Homo sapiens: one gene and its partner. The protein of the gene in region 1 binds, or shares a complex with, the protein of each later gene. Each region holds a gene or a part of one and is shown on either strand. Other genes may lie near its edges.

Region 1 (11,022 bases):
AGAAGTCTATAGTTTTGCTCTTGAGAATAGAAAGCCAGATAGGGGCCAAACCATGAAGAGCTTTGAATGGCATCATAAAGAACTTTATCCTAAAAGAAATCAGGAACTTGAAAGATGTCAAGGGAATATAATATGGTCAGATTTATTCCATGAATCTTACTCAGTGGTGTGTCAAGAACTGACTGCCTGGAGATAGAAATTAGAGATCTCAGTCTGGGACTTTCAAATATGTAATATAAGTCTGATATGGTAGCTATTAAATTGCCTGCTAAAGGGAATGTCAAATTGAGTAGTAAACTTCTAAGGGAAGTTTCATTCTTTCAATAGTTATTGAGAACCTGCTATGTTTGACACCCTGTGCTAGACTAGAGATACAATGGTGAGAAAAAATGCAGTTCCCTGGACTAATAGAGGTTTTTCATCTGGATGAGAAGACAGTTATTAATCAGAAATCATACAAATAAATATAAAGCTACAAGTATGACAGGTGCTACAATGGAGGGGTGCATGGTGCTATAAGCGTGTAATAGGATATAATGGATTCTGATTGTATTCCTAGCATCGATTTTACCGATACCTCATAGAGTAACATTCATGGGATTTAGGTGGGATTAACGTAACTTCCAGTTCCAAGGATAGGCCTTGATTTGCCCTGGCCAATCAGTGCTTGACATTCTCTAGACCACAAAACTCTAGGTTTAGGGGCGGACATGTGACCTAAATTAATTTAATCACATTGAAACTGTGAAATATGTGAAAGAAACTCTCTTTTGATATGGACAAAGAACTACATAACCTTGGGAGATCCTGGCCACCATTTTATGATACAAAAGGAGTAAGCCTTAGGATGAATCTGACATCAGAAAGAAAATTGAGAGGTAGAAGGAAATCAAGTTCCTGCTGATACTGTTAAGTCACTCAAATCAACCTGAGGTTCACCTTATCTTCAGACTTCTCATTTATGTGAGCCAATAAATTCTCTTATCATTTAAACTAGTTTAAATTGGATTTTTTGGTAATTGTAACATTCCAAGGGGGATTTGTTCGAATGTGGCTTTTGTCAAAGAAAAAAAAAAAACCCAGGGGATTTGAAATAGGCAGTCCAAGAAGGCTCCTCCAAGGAAGTGATAATAGTGGCAACATTTAAAAGATAAAATGGGAGTTATTAGGAGATGATTGGTGAGGAAGAAAGCTCCAGACAAAGAGAATACCTGTGCAAAGACAGCAAGCAGGGGCATGAGTATGAAAAAAGAGTGTGCGGGTACTAAGATGCAGCTGGAGAGGTAGGCAGAAGCAGGATGAAAAGGGCTTTTTAAGTCATTGAAAGGATTCTGGCCACTGAAATATTTTTCATAACATATAGGGGTGGATAGGATACATCGTATAACGCACATGACAGCCCCTCACAACAAATTATCCAGCCCCAGATGTCAGTGGTGCTTAGGTTGAAAAACTTTGCTCTAGGAAATTAACCTACAAAGATATTGGCACACATAAAACAACTTTTGCACAATCATATGTTTGAAATTACGAACCATTGGAAATGACACAAATATACAATAAATGAGTTAAATAAATTAGGGTACATTTGTACAGTTGATGCAGGATTTTTCTTGGCCACTTTGACAGCTGGAGACCTCCGGCCAGCAACACCCCAACTACTCGGCCCACCAGGATGTGTCTGGCTTGTGCTCAGGCACGAATCCTGCAGCCACCATGGCCTCAGCCCCTGGCAGGAGGGGGTGTGTGAGTGAACGAGTACAGGGCAGGAGTGGGCTCTGTGCGGGGCTTGTGGCTGGACCAGGTGTGTCACATTGAGGGAAATGTGGTGGCACCCAAACAGGGGTGCTCATGACCCTGAAGCCCCAGAGGTGTTACAGTATGCTAAGCACTCTTTTAGTTCTGCCGTCTGCAGGCCAACGGACAGTGGCATGTTAACAGCTCTATCAGTCCCATTGCCCCACTCAGGCCCGTGGCTTCAGGACTGGCTCTGCCCCACTGCTGCTTCCCATCGCGTTGTGTGGGACGGTTGCCCTCCACCAGCAGAGGGCAAAGGGCCACAGTGTGTACAGCCTTCTTTGTATCTGCGTTTGGTGGGTCCCGAATTTTTCTTCAGCGTCCAAGAATGAGGTTACGCTGACAATCAAAGGGTGAGGAGGGTGGAGAAGAGTTTTATTTGAACTATGAAACAGCTCTCAGGAGAGAGAGGATGCAAGGGTGGTCCCTCACTCAAAGTCAGGTGGTCTCTCTCTCAGTGCGGCTGAGTCCACAGCTTTTATGGGCTCAGAATGAAGGCGTGCATGCTGATTGGTTTGTGAGTATGCAAAAAAGGCTAAAACAACAGCACCACTCAAAGGTAGGTACAACAGTGTAAAAAAACAATTAGGAAAGGATATGTGTAAAATAGGTGAAGGGTGGGGATCAATCAGAAGAAAGCACGCCAAATGGGAAGAGAGGTTCTCAATCTGGTCTGTGGATTTATCCTGGTCTTGTGGCTAGCCTTTAAACTGTCCTCAGCTTGAAGGGTTTCACCAGGGACCTGCCCCTGTCTGCCTAGGATTTGTCTGCCTTTTGCGGCTATCACAGTGGGATACTATGTAGCCATTAAGTAGAATGAGTTAGCTCTATATACACACTGACCCAAAAAAGGCTGTCCTGGGCACGGTGGCTCACCCCTGTAATCCCAGTATTTTGGGAGGCTGAGGCAGGTGGATCACATGAGGTCAAGAGTTTGAGACCAGCCTCACCAACATGGTGAAACCCCATCTCTACTAAAAATACAAAAATTAGCTGGGCGTGGTGGCGGACACCTATAATCCCAGCTACTCAGGAGGATGAGGCAGGAGAATCGTTAGAATCCGGGAGACGGAGGTTGCAGTGAGCCGAGATGACACCTCTGCACTCCAGCCTGGACTGTGTATGGAAAAAAAGAAAGAAAAAAAAAGTGGGGGACAGGGGTTCAGATATGGTGGCTCACACTTGTAATCCCAGCACTTTGGGAGGTCAAAGCAGGCAGATCCCTTAAGCTCAGGAGTGTGAGACCAGCCTGGGCACCAACATGTAGAGACCCTGTCTCCACAAAAAATAAAAAGGAAGGAAAAGAATAGTATTCCATTACAGTCATGTGTCCCTTAACAATGGGGATGCTTTCTGAAAAATGCATCATCAGGTGATTTTTTGTTGTGTGAACATCATAGAGTGTACCTAAACAAACCTAGATGGTAGCCTACTACAGAGGTCCCCAACCTTTTTGACACCAGGGACTGGTTTTGTGGAAGACAATTTTTCCATGGAAAGGGGGAGTTGGATTCTCATAAGGAGTGCACAGGTTAGATCCCTTGCATGTGCAGTTTACAATAGGGTTCTCACTCCTACCAGAATGTAATGCCCCTGCTCATCTGACAGGGGGCAGAGCTCAGGCCGAAATGCTGGCTCCCCTGCCACTCACCTTCTGCTGTGCCGCCCAGTTCCTAACAGGCCCTGGACCACTACTGGACCACTACATACATATCTACATATAATTACCTGTATATGCATAGAATATCTCTGGAATAGGACTAGATACATACTTTGTGGGCCCAGTGCAAAATAAAACCGCAGGGCCCTTGTCCAGAAACTTTCCTGAATTTCAAGTTAGTGACAGCAAAACATTAAACCAAGTGCCTATCTGTACAGGTCACCACCATGAAGCCAGCCCTGCTCTGGCAACATACACAGGAAAATGGAATAGAGGTGATTCCAAGAGGAAAATTCTATGAGTGGCAGGAGACAAAGACTAAAAGAAGACTTAGTTTTCACTATATATCTTTGCCTTTTTTTTTTTTTTTTTTTTTGAGACAGTCTGTCACACTGTCCCCCAGGCTGGAGTGCAGTGGTGCAATCTTGGCTCACTGCAACCTCTGCCTCCCAGGTTGAAGCGATTCTCCTACCTCGGCCTCCCAAGTAGCTGGGATTACAGGCCCCCACCACCACGCCCAGCTGATTTTTGTATTTTTAGCAGAGACAGGGTTTCACCACGTTGGCCTGGCTGGTCTGGATCTCCTGACCTCGGGCAATCTGCCCACCTCGCCCTCCCAAAGTGCTGGGATTACAGGCGTGAGCCACCATGCCCGGCCTCTCTTTTTAATTTCATATGTGTAAAGGCATTACTTATTCAAAACAACAAAAAAGGAAGATTGTGGGCTTATTTGGTTAGCAACTCTTTGAAGTGGAACTTTGATGACTGCCTGAAGCAAAGAACATCTGCTGGGGAAGATGTGGTTATGGGGGGCCCTCAGACTTGGATAAGCACTGAGCCCTGTGCTTTGGAGGGGTCTGAAATCCATGGAATCATGGGACTGTAGCCACCTGCAGCCCACTTTCCCTTTTCCAGACCATGCTGTGGGCACTCTAGTATTCCCTATCCCAAACGCCAAGCCTGACTCCAGGGTCTGCACAATCCTCTTCCCAAGTTCAGTCTTCCTGGGGAGTAACCAAAGGGTGAGGCTTGGACAGAAGGCTGGAGAGTCTAACATCAGGCTCAAAAATTGTGTGAAGCATTCTCTGACTCTTCCAAGACAGAAATGTTATTTTCTCTGAGGTCAAAATACATTTTGTCCACTTTCATCACATCAATTAATTGGCTCTATTGTTATGTATTATATTATGATGATTTTCTTCAAGTACATTTTCTGAGGTCTCTAGATTAAAAAAAAAAACTATGAATCCAGATTTTGAAATTATTTCTATCAGCATGTGTTCTGTACACTGACCCACGTTGTAGTGTACTGCTGAAGGGTGTCCACACTTAAGCGATCTGGTCAAAACATAAGCACGTTTTAACAAGACCATTGATTAGTTATGACTACAACTCCCAAGATGCACTGCAGGGTCAGTGTGCGCGTCTCGCCTAGTTTTCACCGATCAGGCTAATGAGCTGCACAGAAGTGGCAGCTGAACAAGCTGAGAGACTGTATTAAAGAACGAATATAGCGGGGATGGGGAGCAGGCGTCTACGGTCCCAGCTACTCGGGAGGCTGAGGTGAGAGGATCGCTTGAGCCCTCAAGGCGGAGGCTACAGTGAGTCGAGATAGCGCCATTGCACTCTAGCCTGGGAAGCAGAGAGAGACTATCAAAAACAACAAAACGAATAAAGGGATTCTACCAAGAGTGAGCTGGACTGAAATAAACGACACGCTACTACGACCCAGCGCGTGACTATATCCACCGCACAATGTGCGATAATAGCCTCAATGCAGAGAGAATTCCTCCTTTCCTTATTCAGTGCAAGAGAGCCCTATAGAGAACGCAGGAAATGCCCGCGAGAAACTGAGAAGTATCAAAACAATCACAGATATGTTAGGAAAGTAGCTCCCCGCCACTTCCCTAAACTTATCATAGCAGACTTACTTTCCAAGGTTACAAACACAAGAAGAGCACTGTATTTTCATGAAGCGGAAAATGTGCTTTACAATCGCCAGCTACTAAGAGCCTTAACGGTGAAGCGCTCTGCAAGAAACAGGAAATCGTCAACACACTTTCTGCATGAATTGCCTGGAGAGTTGTGTCCATAGACAATTCCTGGTTAGATGCTTAATTGTAGCAGACTCCATAACGGGGTTTAGCGGGTTTCCATTCGGCAGAAAGGGCTCCACGTTCTTTTTCACAGAAAGGTTTAAACTTATTTTTCCTCCTCAGGCGGACGAAGTGAGCGTCGTTCCGTGAAGGTATGAAACCCTTTTCCTTCCTTTCTGTCCCTGGTTACTCCGGTTCAAGGCTACGTACTTCCCCGGTTTGCTTTGTTTTTTCCTCAGAGCTAAGTTCCTAGGAACGTCACATACTGGTGCCATCCAACAACATGACGACGTGCGGAACCGAAGTCCCCTTCCACCTAGCGGCCTCTCGCGGCGCAGGCGTGGACGGGGAGATCGCGAGAACCTCCCGCCCAATTGCGACCCCGCGCCAAGAGGCGGGGCCGAAAGAGGAGGAAGTCGGGCCGAAAGAGGAGGAAGTCTCGCCGAAGTACTCCCGCCCCAGTCGGTACCCCTCCTCGCGAGAGCGCCGAGCATTCCGGCCTGGGAAGCGCGTGCAGAAGCGGAGGTGCTGCTCATGGGACTTGTCGGCCGCCGTAGCCCCTGCTAGGACAGCCCGTGCGAGCCTGCTGGAGGAGGAAGAGAAAGGCAGAGAGAGTCGGGTTACAAGATGGCGGATCTGTAGTAGTTACCGCGGCGGCGGGAGAGCAAGCGAGCCCTGGGGGGCAAAGAGACGGGAGAGTGGGTGTATGCGCGGGTGAAGTGAGAGGTAACGGGGCCTCCGGGCGGAGAGGCCTCAGTGGCTCTTGTCACCCCTTCTCGCGGCTGAACCTTTGGAGCCATGGTGAATTCGGGCCTCTCCGAAGCCGCCGCCGCCGCCACCGCCACTACTGCCTTTACCGTCTCCTAAGAGTGAGGAGCGCGGACGAGGTAAGCGAGGAGGCGGCGGCTAGAGCGGTGGAGACAGCAGCCACCATGTCGGATACGCGGCGGCGAGTGAAGGTCTATACCCTGAACGAAGACCGGCAATGGGACGACCGAGGCACCGGGCACGTCTCCTCCACTTACGTGGAGGAGCTCAAGGGGATGTCGCTGCTGGTTCGGGCAGAGTCCGACGGTAAGGTTATCGGAACTGTAGAATAGGGGATAGTGCCTCTGGTTGGGGCACAGCTTGGGTTTAGGGCCCTGGGCCCGTTACCGTTGCTACTCCTTCGGGACAGCGCGTTGGTTCTGAACTGGCTCTTGTGTACGGCAAAAACAAAGTACTGTACTTTTGACTGGACTTATCCTCGGAGACCGAGACTCTCTGTCCTTCTCCCATCTCTCTTAAGGATTGGACTCCTTCCTTTCCAGTCCCTCCTCTTTTGAAGAGGGGAGAGTGTGAGAGAGAAGGGAGGAAGTAGTGAGAGACTAGGTACTGATGTCGCCCTAGGAGCTGACACCTTCCTCCCCCTTTATTTACTTATCCATTATACGTCTAGTACAAACGGTTTAGGGAAACTTTTCTTTCCGAGTGTTTTTAAAAAAAAAAAATTGTACCAACGGGCCCCAGGTGCCACAGTCGACAGGTGCTGGGGAAAACCGAAAGGCACGTTTTCCTGGCTGTATTGCTGACTGTTGCCACGATACATGGACACACAAGCACATACATCTGTAGTCTGCATTTCTTCGGGCTGCCTTTGTAGAAGGCGCTATGAGAAAGTGAATGCCTTACAATCTAAGCAAGTTGGGACACCAAAGCAGGTTGTAAACTGCTGTGTTCTTTGGTTTATTGTAGTCATGTGAAGTATTTTAAATTACAAAATGTAGAGCCGTAATTAAAATGCCTTTTATAGTATAATCTGGACTTGATTTGAACAACTGATATAGGCAGTTAGAAAAATAATCTTAGGTTTAGTCTTGACATATTTTGTATTCTTGCTTGTTCCCTTTTATTTTAAATAGTCATCACTTCTACAGAAGGTGTTCTTTTGTTCTTAATGAGGAAAGGATAAATGCAGCACTGTAATTTCTATACTAAGTATTTAATCCCTGTCATGATGTTTTTGTTTTGTAATTTGCATTATTTGTTAAACTGGGAATGCAATAAAACAACTTTTGTTAAAACGAATGGCTTGAAGTGGTCATTTAGACCTTAAAATTTTTATTTCAATAAAATTTTAATAGTCATCTAGTCTCCTCATTCCTTGGTTTGATTGTTGGTTTTAGATTAATTTTTCCTTTAAGGGTGTATGGGAATAGGGTGAAATATTTTAGATTAAATGTGAAGCCTAGATTTGGAGAGAAAATGTGAATTCGAATACATTTTATTAAGATGTCCAACTCGGTAAAAAGACTTGAAAAGTTTGCGGGGGCGGGGGGCGGGGTTTAAATGTGTATTTTTTTTTTTTTTTTTTTTTTTTTGGAGACAGAGTCTTGCTCTGTTGCCAGGCTGGAGTTCAATGGCGCGATCTGGGCTACTGCAACCTCTGCCTCCTCTCCCTCTCTCTCAAGCGATTCTCCTGCCCCACCCTCCCGTGTACCTGGGACTACAGGCATGCGCCACCACGCCCAGCTAATTTTTGTATTTTTAGTAGAGACGGTTTCACCATGTTGGCTGGAATGGTCTGGATCTCTTGACCTCGTGATCTGCCCGCCTCCCAAAGTGCTAGGATTACAGACGTGAGCCACTGCGCCCGGCTTTAATGTGTATTCTAATTTTTATTCAGGGTTTTATCATTTGAGACTTATGATGTATTATTTTTTATCTTTCAGGATCACTACTCTTGGAATCAAAGATAAATCCAAATACTGCATATCAGAAACAACAGGCAAGTAGTTGTTTATCTTTAATTTGAAAGACTTCATCTGTGATCAAGGAAGTATTAATCTGACAAAGGTGGGAAAGCTTTCCTGACAAGAAAAAAACATGTTTGGTAAACAAAGATCATGTGTATTTCTCTTGCAGGTTAAAAGTTTCAGACTGAAAAAAAGTTTTTGTACTGGTGATAATTATCATTTTTGGATTGAGCCACTGTCGGTTTATTCTAAGATGTATTTATTAGTATTATTTAACTGTAGTTAGCCAAGTCTCTTCTATACCTTGTACATGAAACCTTTTATTCTGAGTCACGTTTAAAGGAAATGACATAGAACAAAATTCAAAGGGATACTCTTAAAGCAAGGAAAGCCTGTTTGTGGTGTGAAATTAAATCCTTTGACTCAAGTAAAGGTAGAGGTTTTGAAGTAGAAGCATTAAATCCTGCTCTTTAATTGTTGTGTATTTTTAATATAGTAATCAATGGATACTTTATAAAAATGTACATTACCAAGTATGTAACATCTTCTGTTAATATTGTCTTATTTGGGAAAGAAAATGTGTATTGTATTTTAGCACGCCTGATTAATCTGAAAATGGTAGCAGTGATTCAATCTTTTTTATTCTGTGAATGTTTTTGTTTTTATTATGAAATATATTAAAATTGAAAAGTACAGAGAATAATCGGTGTCTACTGTAACACCACCAGATTTAACAATGTTAATGTTACGCCATATTTGTTTCAAATATTTTTGTAATATTGAACATTATGGATAGAGTTAAAGCTTGTTTGTATCCATCCCGTTGTTTACATTCTCCATCCCCTACATAGGTAACCACTATTCTGAAGTTGATGTGTATTCTTTGTGTACATGCTTTTATACCTTTTCTGCATATGTATGTATCCATAAATAATATGTAGTCTGTTGTGTGTTTTTAAACTTTACACAGTGGATGTCATACTCTTACATGTATTCTGCAGCTTGCATTTTTCACACATTCATTTTGAATATTCGTTCATGTTAACAATGTAGATCTAGTTTTCTTTTTAAACTCTGTATAGTATTCTTATGTATGACATACACTTGTTGTTATACATTTGAATTATTTCCAGGTATTCTTTTTTGTGTGTGGTATGTAAAGTCACGATGGCAGAGATTTTTGAAGGAAGATAAATTATTTTAGGATTACATTTACAGCGTCAGTGCCCACTTCAAGGTTTATGAAAATTTGGATGCCCAGAAACAAGTACTTCGTAGTTGGAGGAATAAAATTCTGTCTGTTGTGCAGCTTATTATTACAAAGTCTTACTGTTAGAACAATTATGTATATAACACATTCTTAATCAGTTATTTGAAATACTTTAAAATTTTCAATATTCAATTCATAGCTTTTTTCTCTGTTTAGAAAATATTGTGTGTCTTTTTTGATGGAGAAGCAAATTAAACATTTGTCCTGAATTGAAAACCTGAAGATGTTTCCTATACCTTAGACATTGTAAGGTAGACATTTAAGTAAATTTAATTTCTCAGTCAGCCAGGCAGCTCTTAATCTCTGTCTTTATACCGAGTTTTTACCAGATGATCACTTTTAGTTTGTTTTTGTTTGCTTGCTTCTTTGTGGGGAAAGAAATACTAATTTTTTTTTTTTTTTTACCATATTTCCCTTATCTGCATGAATATAATTATCAGGAACTTTGTTCTTAAATGTAACTAAGTCATAAACAGTTCCCTACAAATTTAGGTTTAATAATGGATTCTTCTCAGATTGTATATAAGATCTTTTAGCTGTTGTTACTTTGGAAACATCACATTATGGAGTAGGTTTGTATTTAAAATAGTCACCCAACATAAGTTAAAAATACATAGTGATTCTGTGAATACTTTAGAATCATTAGGATATGTAGGTAATTTCATGTATAATGTTGCTCTACTAGAAAATTAGTTCTAGATAATTAGCATTTTTGTATACACTTAGTATAAAGTATTGGAAAAAATGCATTATTTAAAAAAATTACACCATTTGGAAATGTTTTCTGTAATCACATTTAAATAATATACTATTTGGGGTTTTGTAATAGTTTATTTTTTCGTTGGGCTTTTTTTTTTTGGCAACATAACATTCAGGTGTATAAGAGAACTCTGGTAATGAGAAGAATATGGAAACACTGAAGAAGAGTGAAAAACTTGTGTGAATGATGTTACCTGTTTATTTTTGTTTAAATTGAGTACACTTTTCTAATTGAAATCATAGGGCCATTTAGGGGTTATGTTAAACTTAGTTTCTTTGTAATAGACATGGTTTTTCATATTTTCACCCAAATCTTCAATTTGCACTTTTGAAAATAATTTTTTTGAGAGGGTCTTCTTCTGTCCCTTAGGCTGGAGTACAGTGGTTTGATCACAGCTCACTGCAGCCTCAACCTCCTGGGCTCAAGCGATCCTCCAATTTCAGCCTTCTGAGTAGATGGGATTATGGATGTGAGCCACCATGCTTGACTAATTTTTTTTTTTTTTTTGAGATGGAGTCTCGCTCTGTCGTCCATGCTGCAGTGTGGTGGTGCGATTTCTGCTCACTGCAAGCTTCGCCTCCCGGGTTCACACCATTCTCCTGCCTCAGCCTCCCAAGTAGTTGGGACTACAGGCGCCCGCCACCACGCCCAGTTAATTTTTTTGTATTTTTTAGTAGAGATGGGGTTTCACCGTGTTAGCCAGA
Region 2 (10,069 bases), on another chromosome or scaffold:
TTTATAAAAGTCTTCTAATTACAACAACCCTTAAAGATTGGTGGTATTGTACTCATTTTACAGGTGGGAACTTTCATGTTCAAAGTTACCCACAAGTAAGGAATGGGGTCTGAAGCCAGCTCTTAGTGTCCTGTCCTTTTTCAGGCCATAATGCAAAAAGGTGGAGTTGGATCATTCACGTTCAGGGTGGGAGCCTGAGAAATCGTAGCAAGTAAGCCAGGGTAGAATTAAGCACGATAGGGAGGCCAGTTCAGAGTTCTGTGGGAAGTAGGATGATGTAGTGGTTAAGGCTCTAGGTTTTGCAGTGTGAGATGGCTCTAGGTTTGAATCTGAACTCTGCCGCTTTCTAGCTGTGTTAGTAATCTTAAGTGTCTTTATTTGTAAAGCAGAATTAATAGTACTTAATAAGATGATTGTGAAGATTCAGTGAGTTGGTGCTGGAGATGAGGTTAGCACAGTGTTTTGGTACAGCATACGTGCTTGATAATCACCAGGTATTCTATTTCTTTTGGAAGAGGGCAATAATGAGATGGGCTAAAGCCATCAGGGAGGGCTTTTGAGTGGAGGTAGGCCTTGAAGGATGAAGATAATTTGGCTAGCTGATGGAGGCAGGGCCAGTGAGGGAAGGGCATTCCAAGCAGGACGAATGTAACAGTGGAGGCCCTGAGATGCGTGGGGAACAGTCAGGGGTTTAATTACCTGCCTCCTCTGGGGAACTGTGTGATTGTGGCTTCTACCAGGCTGGAGAATTGTGGCAGAAGAGCCCACAGAATTACCCTACGTTTATTGAACAGTAAACATTGGCCTTTACAGGGCCACTATTTGGCCTGGCCCGGTACTGGCAAAAAACTTCTATCCATCTCTTCCCCCCAGCAATCCTATGAGGTTGGAATCATTTGCTGCATTTTATCGAATAGGAAGCCATGACTCGTAGAGGTCTGGTGACTTAACTGAGGTCACCCACTGAGGACGTGGCAGAGCTGGGTCCTGAATCTGTGGCCCTCAGGCTCTTTGCCTGGCCCTGCCTCACATAGACTACCTGCAGCCAGACAGGGCCTGTGAGGGGATGATGAGCAGGGTCGGCCTCTTTTTCGCCACCTGTCTGTGGCTTTTCTCTTTTGCCAGCTGACCAGACCAGCCCCATGGTGTTTTTAGTTGTCCCCTTTCCCTCAGTCCTGATTGGCATTTTTAGGAACTTAAACCTGTTGTTGCCTGGCACTATTCTTTAACCTCGAAGTATTGTCTCCCTCACGGGCCCTGGATCAGTGTGGTGGTGATGGTAGACAAAGCTTAGATAGCATGCTGGAGTTTGCAGAATAGCAGGAAGTCGTATATTCAGTCTCCATGGCTCCTTGCAACAGCCTAAGGAATACGCAGGGTGGGCTGAGTACTTAGCCCCATTTCATAGCAGAGGAAACTGAGCCTTTGAGTAGATAATGTCTTGCCCAACATCACGCAGCTAGTCGGAGGGGAAGTTAGTTTTGCATCCAGGTCTTTGACTGTGCTCCGTGGTCACTGAGAGCCAGGCAGAGGCATTTAGATTTTGATGTGGGGTGTGAGGCAGCAGGAAGCCATGGAAGGCTGAGGGGTGGAGGGTCCTGCCCAGTTGAAACTGAGTGGAACTAGGAGGTACTAGGCCAAGGCCTGAGTTGGCCGCTGTTGTCCCAGGCTCAGTCTGAAGCAGGGCCATCTCTGATACCTGGTTATGGCCTCCTGGGGACCCATCAGAGACCCAGGCTGAGGCTGGTGGTGTCAAGAGCACCAGCTTGCCTAGAGGGCACAGACATGCAGATGAAACCAGTGGAAGCACAGAGGTCCGCAGTGTCTGAGCTGAAATTGCTGCTACTAGAAATATTAGCACAGTAGGAGAGCTGAGCTTTTGAATCAGGTGGTCTTCAGTATGAATCTTTGCCTTGTCACCTAGAAGCAATATGACCCTCGTCAAGTCACTTTCTGATTTTTTGAAGTGATAATGACATGCAGTTGAGAGTCCGGGTATCCGGGCACAGGGCCTGCTGCGCTGGTAGCCGTTACTGCAGGCAGGTCCTGATAGGGCTGGGGAAGTGCTGCAAGTGGCAGAACTGGGGCTGGAATCTGGGCCTGATTCCCAGGCCACACTGGGGTTGCGCTGGCACTGAGGGGGGCTTTGCAGAGAGCACGGGCCCTGCATGTGACCTCCCTGGGCTTCAGGTTTTCACTCAGGGTCTGTGGAAGGGGCTGGCATAAATTCTCAGGAAATTGGGCTTCTGGGTTCCAATTTAGCCACTCTCCAGCTTGGTGACCTTGACCCTCCCGCTTTTCTGTAAGCTTTGGTTTCTTTTTTTCTTTTTTTTTTTTTTTGAGACAGAGTTTTGCTGTTGTTGCCCAGGCTGGAGTGCCAGTGGCCTGATCTTGGCTCACTGCAACCTCCACCTCCTAGGTTCAAGTGATTCTCCTACCTCAGCCTCCCAAGTAGCTGGGATTACAGGCACGCGCCACCATGCCCAGCTAATTTTTGTATATTTACTAGAGACGGGGTTTCACCATGTTGGCCAGGATGGTCTCAATCTCTTGACCTCATGATCTGCCTGCCTTGGCTTCCCAAAGTGCTGGGATTACAGGCATGAGCCACCGCGCCCGGCCTAGCTTCGGTTTCTTTACTGTTACGTGAGGCTGAAGAGAACCTCCCCAGTCTGTTGGAAAGGTCACTATGAGCAGTTGATGGGGAAGGATGTTCAGCACAAGAAGCAGTGCAGGTGGGAGAGTCCGGGTACTGATGTGGCCTCTTGGACCACCGCCAGTGCTGCCTTCTGTTCCCAGAAAGCCAGGGCAGACCTCCTTCGTGCTGCCTCTGCCATACAGAGCAAGGGGCATAAGTGAATCCTCCTGTCCACTGAGCTCAGGAAACTCATTCTAAGGGAAGAGATTGGCAGAAAGAGGGGGGCCAGGCGAGTTGGGCCTCCCACATCAGAATATCTTGATAAAGAGTCAGACCCCAGAGCCAGGCTTCCCTGGTTCATATCCCACCTGTGTCACTGGCACCAAGCCAGCCTCCTTCCCTGCTTCAATTTCTTCATCTGTGTACCGGGAATCATCATAGTACCTGCCTGCCAAGCTCTTAATAACATTTGTGGCACACAGTATGAGCTCGAATGTTCACTGCTGCTATTACCAGGCAAAATTTGGAAATACAGTGTTGCTTAAATTGGGTATCTATAGGCTGGGTGCAGTGGCTCACATCTGTAATCCCAGCACTTTGGGAGGCAAAGGTGGGTAGATCACTTGAGGTCAGGAGTTCGAGACCAGCCTGGGCAACATAGTGAAATCTCGACTCTACTAAAAATACAAAAATTAGCTGGGCGTGGTGGTACATGCTTCTAATCCCAGCTACTCGGGAGGTTGAGGCAGGAGAATCACTTGACCCAGGAAGCAGAGGTTTGCAGTGAGCAAAGATGGCGCCACTGCACTCCAGACTGGGCAATGGAGCCAGACTCTGTCTCAAAAAAAAAAAAAAAAAAAAAAAATTGGGTGTCTTACCTGGCAAAGTGATTTCATCTCCTGCTCACTCAAGTAGAAGTAGACTGCACTGCAAGGAGAAATAAAAAATATTTAAGTCCTCATAGTCATAAAGAAATACTGAACACATGGCAAGAGCACCTCACTTTTTTTTTTTTTTTTTTGAGATGAAGTCTTGCTCTGTCGCCCAGGCTGGAGTGCAGTGGCGCGATCTTAGCTCACTGCAGCCCCCACCTCCCAGGTTCAAGCGATTCTCCTGCCTCAGCCTCCCAAGTAGCTGGGATTACAGGCACGCGCCACCACGCCTGGCTAATTTTTGTATATTTAGTAGAGACAGGGTTTCACCATGTTAGTCAGGCTGGTCTCAAACTCCTGACCTCGTGATCTGCCCACCCTGGCATCCCAAAGTGCTGGGATTACAGGCATGAGCCACCGCACCTGGCCAAGAGCGCATCACTTTGAAGGCGCATCCACTGTGGGCCTGCCCTGGGCACCTACCCTTGTGTCTGGATAGCCTGGGAGAAGGGCTCTGTGATTGGCCAAGGGTGACTTAAGCTCTGCTGTGGAGAGGATGGGGAGACCCGCCTCCCAGGAGTGAGTCCTGGATGCGGAAGAGGGAGCGGCAGGGGGAGTCAGGGCTGGAAAAGTCCCAGCCTGCTCAGAAGGCCTGGAACGCTGGGATAAGAGGTTGGACTTTGTCCTTTTGGCAGCAGGGGGCCACGGAAGGGTGTTGCATGCTGAAGGGCCGTGGTCAGCCTGTTTTGGGGAGACTGTACGCTTCACTCCTGCCCCCTGGAGCTTCCAGGACTGCCTCATATCCTCCCCTCCCCCCAAAAAAGGTCAGGAATTGGGCTGGGCTGGCCTGGCTGTGGTGACCCTGGTCTTCTCCTGTCTCCAGAGAGATCTTGGTAGAGGAGAGCAACGTGCAGAGGGTGGACTCGCCAGTCACAGTGAGTACCTGCTGTCCCTGCAGAGCCAGGCCTGGTCTTTCAGGCACATGAAGTTTCCTCTTCATCTTGGGGGCTCTATAAGCCCAACCCTAAGCTCTTTTATCTGTCCTTTCCCTCACCTTCAACGGAGCACTGCTAAAAGAAGTGGGGGTTGCTGTGCACGTTGGCTCACACCTGTGATCCCAGCATTTTGGGAGGGCAAGGTGGGCACATCACTTGAGGTTAGGAGTTCGAGACCAGCCTGGCCAACATGGTGAAACCGTTTCTACTAAAAATACAAAAATTAGCCACGCGTGGTGGCACGTGCCTGTAATCCCAGCTACTTGGGAGGCTGAGGCAGGAGAATCGCTTGAACCCCAGAGTTGGAGATTGCAGTGAGCTGAGATCAGGCCACTGCACTCCAGCCTGGGTGACAGAGGGAGACTCCGTCTCAAAAAAAAACAAAAAAAAACAAAAAAAACAGGCCGGGCGCGGCGGCTCACGCCTGTAATCCCAGCACTTTGGGAGGCCGAGGCAGGTGGATCATGAGGTCAGGAGATCGAGACCATCCTGGCTAACATGGTGAAACCCCATCTCTACTAAAAATACAAAAAAATTAGCCAGGTGTGGTGGTGGACACCTGTAGTCCCAGCTACTCGGGAGGCTGAGGCAGGAGAATGACGTGAACCCAGGAGGCGGAGCTTGCAGTGAGCCGAGATCGCGCCACCGCACTCCAGGCTAGGCGACAGAGTGAGACTCCGTCTAAAAAAAAAAAAAAGAAAGGAAAGAAAAGAAAGGGGTTATGGGAAGGGACTTTGGATTTGTTAGTGGAGATTCTTGGCCAGGGCAGAAGGACTCCTATTTGGCGAGTGATTCTGCTCACATATCTCCAGGGCTCTGTGTTAGTAACTTGATTCTGGGTACTTTGTGGGGAGTAGAGAGAGGAAGGGGCCGGGACATCTACCTGGAAGGACTTAGTTCTAGCTCTTGCCTACAGAATAGTTGGTACTCAGCATAGGACAGTGGGTATGGTTCCAGACCAGACTGACTTGGGGTGGGAGAGGAGAATTTTGGTCCTAGGAAGTAGAAGTGCAGCCAAGAGTGATAAAGCTCACTAAAGCAGCGGGTGTTTGGAGGGTAGTCCCTGGCAACTCCCACTGCTTGAGTTCCAACCCCACTCTTCCTGTTCCCCAGGTGTGCGGCGACATCCATGGACAATTCTATGACCTCAAAGAGCTGTTCAGAGTAAGAGTGTGGCCAACACTGTGAAATGTAACGGGGGGATGACTGGAAGACCCCTGTAATTGAGGGTGGGAGCCTTAATTTGGGGCGTGGAGTGGGGGCAAGGGGCCCCAAGTTAGATGGGTGGTTGTGGAAGAAGGGCCTCCGCTGGACAGAAACAGGTAGGGGGTAGGGGACTGTTTACGACAGGGCAAAACTTTCTACTTCCCCACAGGTAGGTGGCGACGTCCCTGAGACCAACTACCTCTTCATGGGGGACTTTGTGGACCGTGGCTTCTATAGCGTCGAAACGTTCCTCCTGCTGCTGGCACTTAAGGTGGCAGTCCCCGGCTTCTGCACCCCCAACCTGGGCGACCTCGGGCCGGGCCTGTCTTAGTCCGTTCCGCCCTCATCTCCTATCGTGACCAGCCCCACCTTGGAGCTGTGTCACTGGTGATGGACCGATTCTGCTTTTGGGGGTGGTCAGAGACTTGATGGGGGTTGAGGCCAGCGGGGCAGCATTCTGGGAGGGGCAGAGGCTCACTGTTGCGAATGTGGCAGGTCATTGATGCCACTGGTGGGAGAGGCAGTGTGGGGCCAGATGACAAAGGGCCTGGGTGCCTTGCTAGGGACCCGGTCTGTGTCTGGTAGGTGAAAGAAGAGCCATTAGGTTCATAGTTGAGGGAATGGGTCAGCTTTACATTCTCTGGAGGGGTCGTGTGGGCCTGGGAGGTGGCTGATGCCACACGATTCAGGCAAGAGGTGCCAGGAGTGTGCTGGGCAGTGGTTGTGAGGATGGCAGGCTGGCGGGCACGAGGAGGTCAGAGAGGGATGTGTGGAGAGACCGTCTAGGCGCCAGCCCTGGCTTGGTGGCCACCCCCAGGTTCGCTATCCTGATCGCATCACACTGATCCGGGGCAACCATGAGAGTCGCCAGATCACGCAGGTCTATGGCTTCTACGATGAGTGCCTGCGCAAGTACGGCTCGGTGACTGTGTGGCGCTACTGCACTGAGATCTTTGACTACCTCAGCCTGTCAGCCATCATCGATGGCAAGGTAAGCCAGCCCAGGGCTCCATGGGACAGGGAGAGGAGGGGGGCTTCAGGCCTCAGCCCCGTCCTCTTTCCCTGCTCTCCCCTGTAGATCTTCTGCGTGCACGGGGGCCTCTCCCCCTCCATCCAGACCCTGGATCAGATTCGGACAATCGACCGAAAGCAAGAGGTGCCTCATGATGGGCCCATGTGTGACCTCCTCTGGTCTGACCCAGAAGGTGAGGGCATGTGGGCAGGGGCAGGCAGGGACAGCCAGGAGGGGTTGGGAAAGAGAGGGAGCAGGGCTGGTCTTCACTGTCACTCGTCCTCCACCTGCCAAATGGCTGGAACCCTGGAGGAGGAGCAGGGAGGCCTGCATGGCAGGTGCTTTGAGCACACAGTGGCTTGGGGCATGGCCCAGAGGGCTGTGGAGGACAACCAAGTCATGGCTCCCTGAAGTGAAGGGGCCTTAGAACATGACAGCAGCTTCTTCAGAGGTCAGAACCCCAGAATGGTAGCCCCCTGAGACCCCTCATTTTGTGGGTTTTCCACTAGTGTAGAGCAGAGCTGAGATTTAAAGTCAGGTCTTCTGAGGACCAGCCAGAGTTCCTGTTGTCACAGGCACACACGCACAGGCAGCCTCTGCTCCAGCGCAGACACACACACACATACACATAGCCTCTGCTCCATCACAGCCACACACACGCACACGAGGCCTCTGCTCCATCACAGCCACACACATACAGACACACACATGCAGACACACACATGCAGCCGCTGCTCCACAGTCACTCCGGACCTCCCTGTGACAACACAGGGTGCCCTTCTGTCTCTGGGAGTGCCCCTTTCACTCTTATGTGCTGTTTGGACGGGGATTGTATGATCACTGTGATTATGAGGGGGCCCCAGGCATTGGGCGTTCTTTCTCCTCTGGAGCTTATCTGCCCCTACATTTGCTGTCCTGGTCCCCGCCATCCCACAGACCATATTCAGGCCCCATGCTCTGGTCCCACGGGCCTCTGGTGGACTTGGGGAGGGGCCAGGCTGCTCACCCTCAAGGGGCAGCGCTGGCAGCCAGAGAAGCCTGAGGACATCCCTCTCCATCCCTCCCTTTCCGCATCAGACACCACAGGCTGGGGCGTGAGCCCCCGAGGAGCCGGCTACCTATTTGGCAGTGACGTGGTGGCCCAGTTCAACGCAGCCAATGACATTGACATGATCTGCCGTGCCCACCAACTGGTGATGGAAGGTTACAAGTGGCACTTCAATGAGACGGTGCTCACTGTGTGGTCGGCACCCAACTACTGCTACCGGTGAGCCGGCTGGGCCGGGCTGGGATGGGCGGGCATCTGAGCCGAGCTGCTCCTGACCCTGCTGCCCCGCCTTCCAGCTGTGGGAATGTGGCAGCCATCTTGGAGCTGGACGAGCATCTCCAGAAAGATTTCATCATCTTTGAGGCTGCTCCCCAAGAGACACGGGGCATCCCCTCCAAGAAGCCCGTGGCCGACTACTTCCTGTGACCCCGCCCGGCCCCTGCCCCCTCCAACCCTTCTGGCCCTCGCACCACTGTGACTCTGCCATCTTCCTCAGACGGAGGCTGGGCGTGGGGGGGGCTGTCCTGGCTCTGCTGTCCCCCAAGAGGGTGCTTCGAGGGTGAGGACTTCTCTGGAGAGGCCTGGAGACCTAGCTCCATGTTCCTCCTCCTCTCTCCCCACTTGAACCATGAAGTTTCCAATAATTTTTTTTTCTTTTTTTCCTTCTTTTTTCTGTTTGTTTTTAGATAAAAATTTTGAGAAAAAAAATGAAAAAATTCTAATAAAAGAAGAAAAATGGTTTTTGGGTTTGTGCCAGACTTGGTTGGGAATGCACAGGGTTGCTGGCCTGGGACCTGGGGTGGACGTCAGGGCCTTGACTGCCTCAGGGCCCCGACCTGCCAAGAGGGCCAGGCTCAGGCCAGTCAGCTTGCCCAGGGCCTCCAGGGGCCGCTGCCTGCTGGCTTCCCCAGCCCTAGGGAGAGGGCTCTGTTCTCATGGGCAGCCTTATCTTATTAACAGCATACACACACAGGCACACACAGAATCACAGGATTCTGATTTCTCCATTTTCCTGAAGAGGAGATGGGCCTAGAGGGCCAGTGGATTTTGTGCTAGGTCAGGCAGCTGGAAACACAGGTCTAGATCTGGGCCTGGGTCTCCTAGCAAAGCCTTTGCTCACCCAGCCCCGCCCAGGGCCAAACACAGGAGCCCAATGTTTCCTGAGCATGGATGGCTTTTGAGTTTTATTAACAAAAATACTCTGGTCCCAGAACAACAGACTGGTGTGGCCTGCACCAGTGTGTGTGGGGGGGTGGGGATTGAGCCCCTCCAGAGCCCATGGGGAGGCCTGGTAAGTGGGGATGCTGGTCTGTGGCCCCATTTGGCCAGGCAGAGCCCCTTCCATTCACACGGAGGTGAGAGCCGGGAAGGGGAAGCCGGCCCCAGCTGGACTCCCAGCAGCCTTGGTTAGGCTTTGAAGCCAGAGGGGGGTGGGAGTGAAATCAAGGTGTGAAGTTGAGGGGGTGGGTGGGCAGGCCCAAGGCGGCCATTTGGTGTGGGGGATGGGGCCGGTGGAGGTGAGGGGGCTCCAGGGCTGGGGGAAGGGAGCGGGAGGTTTGTGATGGAGGCAGAGGGGCCCAGCAGTGGTTCAGTACATGGGTTTGGAGCCCACATCCAGATAGCCCCCAGGCGCGGTGTATGGTAGAGGGAAGGGGCCCCCTTGGAGAAAGTGCGGGGCAAAGGGTACCGCCGGTGGAGCCGCTGGGTACCCGGAGCCCCCTGACCCGTGCGGCAGCTCCAGAAATGCAGCCGAGTAGGGGGCTGAGCGCCCGGAGTCTGGAGCCTCCGGGAAGCTGGGGCTCCTGACATGGAGAGAGGGATGTCAGAGCAGGGCAGAGGGACCCGCAGCCCCGCCTGGTCCCCTGTCCCACTCACCTGGTGGGAAGGTGACTGGGGGCCCCATGGAAAGCCGCAGGGTGCAGGAGGTAGGCCTCAGCACTGGGGCCACCACACAGAGGTGCCGGGGCAGCGGTGGCTTCCCCGGGGGCTGGGGCCTGTTCTGGATCTGATTCACGAATGTCTCCACCCAGGGTGGAGTCGCAGGGACCACCTGGTGTGTCTGGGGAGAGGGAAGGGAGAGGTTGGGCTAGGGAGGATCCCTGTCTCAGGCCTGGCCCCATCGCCATCGGGACTACACTCACCTCCGCTCCCATAGGCCTCTGTGGCTGCTGGCTCTGGGCCCCGCAGTTTCCTCTTCACACGGGCGTCTCGCTCCCTGGGGAACAGTGGTGGTGATGATGATGATGATGGTGATGGCCATGGTGATGGTAACAGTACTTACCCGGTGCCAGGCATTTC

The links.
Region 2: PPP4R3B (region 1) and PPP4C share a complex: the UniProt entries of both Homo sapiens proteins name them as parts of the PP4 complex.

The regions. Positions count from the first base shown.
Region 1 is NC_000002.12:55,612,749-55,623,770, reverse strand, and holds the start of PPP4R3B (serine/threonine-protein phosphatase 4 regulatory subunit 3B), read left to right. Parts: upstream 1-6,148; 5' UTR 6,149-6,485; coding exon 6,486-6,627; intron 6,628-8,264; coding exon 8,265-8,320; intron 8,321-11,022. UniProt on the Homo sapiens protein: Regulatory subunit of serine/threonine-protein phosphatase 4 (PP4). May regulate the activity of PPP4C at centrosomal microtubule organizing centers.
Region 2 is NC_000016.10:30,076,866-30,086,934, forward strand, and holds the end of PPP4C (serine/threonine-protein phosphatase 4 catalytic subunit), read left to right. Parts: intron 1-4,334; exon of another isoform or gene 4,335-4,393; coding exon 4,394-4,445; intron 4,446-5,618; coding exon 5,619-5,669; intron 5,670-5,880; coding exon 5,881-5,982; intron 5,983-6,528; coding exon 6,529-6,702; intron 6,703-6,789; coding exon 6,790-6,916; intron 6,917-7,800; coding exon 7,801-7,990; intron 7,991-8,067; coding exon 8,068-8,197; 3' UTR 8,198-8,511; downstream 8,512-10,069. Other genes in the region: T-box transcription factor TBX6, read right to left, coding at 9,360-9,573, 9,647-9,830, 9,913-9,986. UniProt on the Homo sapiens protein: Protein phosphatase that is involved in many processes such as microtubule organization at centrosomes, maturation of spliceosomal snRNPs, apoptosis, DNA repair, tumor necrosis factor (TNF)-alpha signaling, activation of c-Jun N-terminal kinase MAPK8, regulation of histone acetylation, DNA damage checkpoint signaling, NF-kappa-B activation and cell migration.